Homo sapiens: one gene and its partner. The protein of the gene in region 1 interacts with the protein of each later gene in a pairwise test. Each region holds a gene or a part of one and is shown on either strand. Other genes may lie near its edges.

The links. The genes of interacting proteins can lie anywhere in the genome.
Region 2: the proteins of ZBTB20 (region 1) and TMEM132D interact in a two-hybrid assay, tested with the Homo sapiens proteins (one large-scale study listed by BioGRID).

Annotation. Positions count from the first base shown.
Region 1 is NC_000003.12:115,140,789-115,144,288, forward strand, and holds part of ZBTB20 (zinc finger and BTB domain-containing protein 20), read right to left. Parts: intron 1-3,500. UniProt on the Homo sapiens protein: May be a transcription factor that may be involved in hematopoiesis, oncogenesis, and immune responses. Plays a role in postnatal myogenesis, may be involved in the regulation of satellite cells self-renewal.
Region 2 is NC_000012.12:129,078,526-129,082,025, reverse strand, and holds part of TMEM132D (transmembrane protein 132D precursor), read left to right. Parts: coding exon 1-267; intron 268-3,300; coding exon 3,301-3,492; intron 3,493-3,500. UniProt on the Homo sapiens protein: Regulate neuronals morphology via inhibition of the WAVE regulatory complex (WCR), a complex that controls F-actin cytoskeletal dynamics.

The DNA of each region.
Region 1 (3,500 bases):
TATGTTGAATTAGAACATCTTTTTAAAAGCCAAAAGTAATTGAAAAGAGATTAAATTGGTACACTCAACTCTCTAAACTGTGTGTATATTTTTCTTAAAGTGCATATCTGTGAGCTGACAGTAAAGACAGGCTGGCTGCTTTGTTTGACTATAGTTCTGTTTACCTCATACTGTCAAGAATGGATTTTGACACAGTATTAATATTGCTATTTTTATTGATATAATTAGCACTGCTATAAATAATTTCTTGTGCTGCCATATGTAAGTATATCATTACAATCAGCAGTATTTAGTGCTTTTCTTATATGACACCTTGAAAACAGACTGTTGGCCCAAAGAACAAAAGTGACCTCATGATATGGGAATCACTGAAAAAAACATTGCCCTGTCAATAGAGACTACTGTTTTGTGTATGACTTCACTAAACAAACTAGTTTATATTTGTTTGAAACTAAAGTTTCTCACCAATCTGCTGTTTCAATTTCACATCACACCATATTGTACCTAAAACAGGCAATCTGGATTCCTGTTGCTACTTTTTCTTCCCCCAAACAGCTCAGGAATGGGTTTGAAATACAAGGCTTGAATACATAAAGCAAAATAATTAAGACACCCAAAATTCAGAATGGGTGGGTGAAAACAAGTACACTTGAAACCATTTGTGTAACTACTAGTGGGTGGCCCACTGTGAGTTTTTGATTATATGAAAGCAAAATCAAAACATATTTTATCTTGCCTCTAGATCACATCAGCTGTGACAATAACCTCATCTGGACCTTGAATAGTTTGTTCATAAAACAAAGTAGGGTGACTGACCCAGTGCATATTCAACACAGAGTATGAAGGCCAAAAGAAAATGACAATACCATTCAAAACAAGTTTGTGGAAATTTTAGACTAGTATATTAAAACCTTTCTTTGTCTCTATCACTTGACAGATGGTTAGCCTTCACACAGCCTAGTATCTCTGGCAAAGAAATGACTGTGTCTAGCCAATAACACCCCAAATTTTGACTTAAAATGCACTGTACACATGCTTAGACTTACCTTACAAATATGAATATTAATAAACTTAGTCATGCTTACTTTATTACTATAAAAACTTGATAGATGTCAAGATTTCATCTTCTGCCGTTAAAAATACCTTCTTGAAACTCAACTATCTTAGGTGGATATAAGGTTCCATGAACTCTGCACTTCAGATTTCATTCATTTCACAGGTTGGCTGGTAATCATGCTTAAAAAAATACTTCCAAAATAACACTTCATCCCAAAAATATAAAATTTATAGAAATTTAATTAGCTTGTGTTTCTATGCTATCCATAGGAAAGTTTTGGTAACAAAGTGGCTTAAACAAAATCACCAGGGAACCCTGAATACACTCCATGTCAAGGACCACAGGCAGGACTGGAATTATTTATCCAGTATTGATATGTCTTTATTCAAAAACTGCTCATTTATAAATATATACTCACACACACATGCAAACACACATCGATCAACCATCCTTACCAGAAAACAGGAAATGGTCTTACTTTTTAACATTCAATTAGCCATTCTTCCATTTTGCTCTTTAAAAAAAATTCAACTGAGGCTGGGCACGGTGGCTCACACCTGTAATCCTAGCTCTTTGGGAGGCCAAGGCAGGCAGATCACGAGGTCAGGAGATCAAGACCATCGTGGCCAACATGGTGAAACCCTGTCTCTACTAAAAATAACAAAAAAATTAGTAGGACGTGGCTGTGCGCGCCTGTAGTCCCAGCTACTCAGGAGACTGAGGCAGGAGAATTGCTTGAATCTGGGAGGGGAGGCTGCAGCGGGCCAAGATTGTGCCACTACACTCCAGCCTGGCGACAGAGCAAGACTCCATCAAAAAAAAAAAAAAAAAATTCAACTGAAACAATGTATTCCATTAGTTATAAAGTCTGTTTCCTCCTAAATCTTCCTATTTATAGTTTTCAGATGCTGGCAAGTCCGTATACAAATAGCCAGAGGCAATCACAAACTGCTCTAAAGTGCATTAATATGTACCCTTCCTGGAAGAGGCTGATTATGTTCCAAATTAGCATAAATAGAGATCTAATGTAGGTATAAGCGTGACAAACCCTCCACGGCACAGGATGGGAGGGCTGGAGGAGGGAGGATTGTATTAAAAAAAGTTATTCCACTTAAGAACTAAACTTGTATTTGGCTAACAAAGTAAGACTCACCATGACAGATGGGAAAAAAAATTAAAAAGGAAAAACTGTTATTTGAGAACTATGAACTAGGTTTTGGAAAGGTGAGACACCCACTACTTGAAGTCACAATCTCAGCATTAAATCATATACTCATTTAACCAGGTACCAACTTTCCTTCTATTAGAAACCCAGGATTTTTACACCTACAGACTAAATGATTAAAGTATTGCTAAAATCTTCTGTAATGTTCCTCTTGCATTACAAATAAGTCTATTAAAGCAGAAAAGTGCCAATCAAATGCTTTTGAAAAAATGGTTTAAATAACAAAGCATTTTTTGCAGGTCTCTCCTCTTTAATGTCGCCTATAAACTAATTACAATAAATTTTCACCTTCTCTTGATAAAATCACAACTGAAACTAGGCATGGTGGCATGCACCTTAGTCCCAGCTACTAGGAGGCTGAGGCAGGAGGGCGGATCACTTGAGCCCAGGAGTTAAAGTACAGCCTGGGCAATAAAAGGAGATTCCCATCTCAAAAAACGAAAAAGAAACCCAGAACTGAAAAAGATTTAGGTACTTGATTTTTCAGATATGTTCCTAAAAACAAATCCCAACCAAAAATTAACAGATATTCTAGCTTTTGTTTTACCATACTTTGCTAACGGGATAATACTATGTAGGAATTTTATAGTAACTTTCAAGACACAAGATTTTTTTAATATAAAGCAACGTTTTATTAATTTCAAAGACATTATTAAAATCATGAAAAAAATCCCTATCTGTTAAAATTACCAACTGAAATATATGGAGAAAGTTTCATGACAATAACAAAAGGTACAAATAAGAAATAAACTAAGATCTTTCTTTCCTATCACTGCCAACTGGTAAACACCTTCCTCCTTCTCAAACTTCTGTAGGCTCTTTCAAACTGTAGTTCCTAAGACAAGAAAGCAGCTAGGTTTTAAAGTTTCATTAAAAAATCTCCTCCCCTAACAATCTAAAATGCACAAAGTGTGTGTGACATTAGAATGTAAGCTCCACAAGGGCAGGCAATTTTCTCTCTTGTTCATTATTACACTCCAAGTGTCTAGAACAATATGATAAATTTAACCATCCATTTCAGAAAAATATGATTATTTCAGAGACTAAAGCAAAGCCCATCAATCTCTACTTCCGTATTCCAAATGTTTTTGAAGAAGTCTCTGCTTGCCACTGATTCTGTGAAGTTATTCAAAATAATATGTAATTATTTTATAAATTATAGATCGCAGGAACTTAGCTGTAGCTTTTATTGCCCTTCTAAAACAACCTAATTATTCA
Region 2 (3,500 bases), on another chromosome or scaffold:
GGGGACAGTGAAGAGGAGGAGGATGATGAGCGGAGGGGCCGCGGCTGCACCCTGCAGTACCAGCACGCCATGGTGCGGGTCCTGACGCAGTTTGTGGCTGAGGCGGCCGGCCCTGGGGGACACCTGGCCCACCTGCTGGGCTCAGACTGGCAAGTGGACATCACGGAGCTGATAAATGACTTCATGCAGGTGGAGGAGCCCAGGATCGCCAAGCTGCAAGGCGGACAGATCCTGATGGGGCAGGAGCTTGGGATGACCACCATTCAGGTAAAAAAAAAAAAAAAAATCCCCAAATCAAGATCTCTCTGTCTTCCCACCTCTGCTCTACCTAGAGGAGAAACCAGCTGTTTGTCATTGCTGGGAATGGTATCTATTTTTAGGATGGGTAAATTCAAAGAAATTGTGGAGTAAGCAATACAAGCGATTTTGGCTGGGTGTGGTGGTTCACGCTTATAATCCCAGCACTTTGGGAGGCCGAGGCGGGCAGGTCATGAGCTCAGTAGTTTGCGATTAGCCTGGGTAACATGGCGAAACCCCATCTCTACCAAAAATACAAAAAATTACCCGAGTGTGGTGGTGCATGCCTGTGGTCCCAGCTACTCGGGAGGCTGAGGTGCAAGGATCGCTCGGGCCTGGGAAGCAGAGGTTGCAGCGATCTGAGATCGTGCCACTACACTCCAACCTGGATGATGGAGCTAGACCCCATCTCAGACAAAACCACAATGCAAGCCATGTAATGATGTGATGAGAATCTCAAAATTCCTCACATATTACTTATAGGGGAGAAACTCTGGGCTGGCTCCCATGGTGGCTCACGCTTGAAACACATGATTTTGCCCAAGCCATGGTAGGCGTTACCATCTTGGTAAACAAGCTTTTGAGGTGAGCTTACCTGATCTGAATCACAGGCACGGCCAGCAACTTCCTGCTGAGCCACTTTCCGCCACTGAGCATGGTCACCTAAACCTTCCCACGGCTTCAGGATATTGTGGCCGCCCCTACCGAGTCACAGCCGCGGGCCTGATGAGAACCTGAACAACTCAGAAATGTGCTAAAGGACGAAGTGAAGTGATTGTGCCTCCATATGTCTCGTGGGCCCCTTCTGCTGGGGAGCGGGTGACGGAGAGGACCAGTGGCAACACTTGGGTTTTGAAACACTTTAACAAAACAGTGTTCTGGGAGGCTTGTAAGGGTTTGGTCATTTACCTCCCAGCTGAGAACAAAGCAAGAGATTGTTTTCTTTCTGTGTACATGTAAGGGGTGCAAGTGCAGCTTTGTTACCTGGACATATTGCGTGTCTGCCTTGTTAGTGTAGCCATCACCCAAATAGTGTACATTGTAGCCAAAGGAAGAGTGTATTACTCAGCAGCTGCCCCATCTGCAGGCAATGCGATTGTCTTATCAGGCAATCTGTGAGGTTTCTAAAACAGCTGTGCATGAGGAATCATTATAACTGAGACTAGATTGGATCGTGGAAGATTTAAAACATATCCATTCTGGAAAATTGGCTGGTATATCTAACACTTCATTTTATCCAAGGAGGAAAATAAATGGGTTTGGGCCGTAGACCAGGAGTCGCATGCTCTAATGATCTCTAAAGGCTGAGAAGCTACCATCAGTGAGGAGAGTAGGCTGGGTGTGTGCTGAAAGACAGACAGCAGCTGATTTTCCTCTGAGTGTTAGAGAGACAACAGGGAGTGGTGGTGCCTGTGGAAAAGGGGCAAGCTCTTACTCAGAGCCAAAAGCTGCCAAGAAGAAACGCAAGTCTACTGCAGCCATATGTTGCAATTTTCCAGAAAAGCTGGAAGTCTGTTTTTATATGCAATCTTCTGGCTCTCTAAATGATGGTCATTAATTCTACCTTAAAATATGATTTATGTCAGACAAAACATATCTGTCTCATAGATGAGAGCTTGCAACCTCCACAATTGACTAAGAAGTTGAAAGACCTGAATCCCTACCATAAATCTATAGGCTAAACTGATACTGATGCCCAGAAACTCACAGCGAGATGAGAATTTGGTATTAACATCTTCCCTTAAGTGATAATTTAAGTGCAAAGGGGAAAAGCCATACCGTTCTGAAACCAGGTGTCAGGGAAGAGGAAGTGGGCCAGCTTCCCACACATTAAACATGAACATTATTTTGGTGAGGCCTCTACTCCTGCGAGCCTTGGTTCTTTTCTCTTTTTTCTCACTGTGTCCTCCTGAGTCATAAATTCACTTGTCCACTTTCTTCTGGGGACACACCTCTCATGCTCGCCACCATTTAAATTGTCCCAATCGGACCAGAAAGTGAAGGTGGCATTCGGGTAGAAGTATGGAGCTTTGATTCCTGGTCTCAAAGGGTCCTGGGAAAACTGCTGTCTTGACCTACATCATAAATATCACCAAAAACTTGAAAAGAGAAAGAGGTCGAGAAAGCAGGAGAATGGAGGATGAAGCCCATCTCTTCTAGAAGGAAGGTTGTTATACGGGGCTGTGAGGAGTCTAAGACAGCTGTTTATCATTTGGGCGAAGGGTGAGAGGAGGAAGAAGTGATTCCACAGACGTTCCTCAAAAGCAGGATTTCCTGTTCAGGGTCTAAATTGCACATAAGCCTCATTTTCCAGGTCATTCCAGGTGTCCAGAGGAGAAATGAGGCTTTGGGTTGTGGGCATCAGGCGTAGACATTCAGAACCTACGTTTATCAGAATATGCCCAACGATATTCCTCATCAACAGGCATCATGCGCTGCGTTTCCCAAAGTGTACAGTGTGGCCTCCAGTGACACGCGTGATTGAGATGGACCAGCAGGATCCGCCTTCTAGTTGCACATTGGTTTTTATGTGCAAGAGCGAAAGCTATCAATATGTAACCAGTACACCCAACCCGTCATTCACTGGTGATAGGAAGGCTTTTGAAAAAAACAAATCATTTAAGTAAAATAAATAATTTTAAACAAAATACACACTGTGCTGTAGAAGAATCATAAAGCTAATAGTCGAATGAAAACGTCAGTTCCTCCTGTCCAGGATGGAGCATGGTGGGAAACGGAGCTGATGTGTGGGGTGTGGGGAGAGGGCCAAGCCCTACCTGCCCACTCCTTGACACCACCTTGCTTTATGCAAAAAATGCATTACATTTTCTCAAGCAATACATATGATTCAGAAGGTGGTGTGAGTGGGAAAGGCCTGTTCTCATTCATTCTGGCTCACATGTTGCCCTGCCGCTGCCTGCACACTGGCACTTCCTCCTGTGACTGGAGGCATTGCCTGGACCACAGAAAGCCTTTCCTTGTCATGTCGCTTCTGCCCTCCAGATCCTGTCTCCTCTGTCAGACACCATCCTCGCTGAAAAGACCATCACTGTGCTGGACGAGAAGGTGACCATCACAGACCTCGGGGTGCAGCTGGTGACAGGGCTGTCACTCTCCTTGCAGCTCAGCCCAGGAAGCAACAGGGCCATCTTTGCCACTGCAGTGGCTCAGGAACTTCTGCAGAGGCCAAAACAGGTATGGAG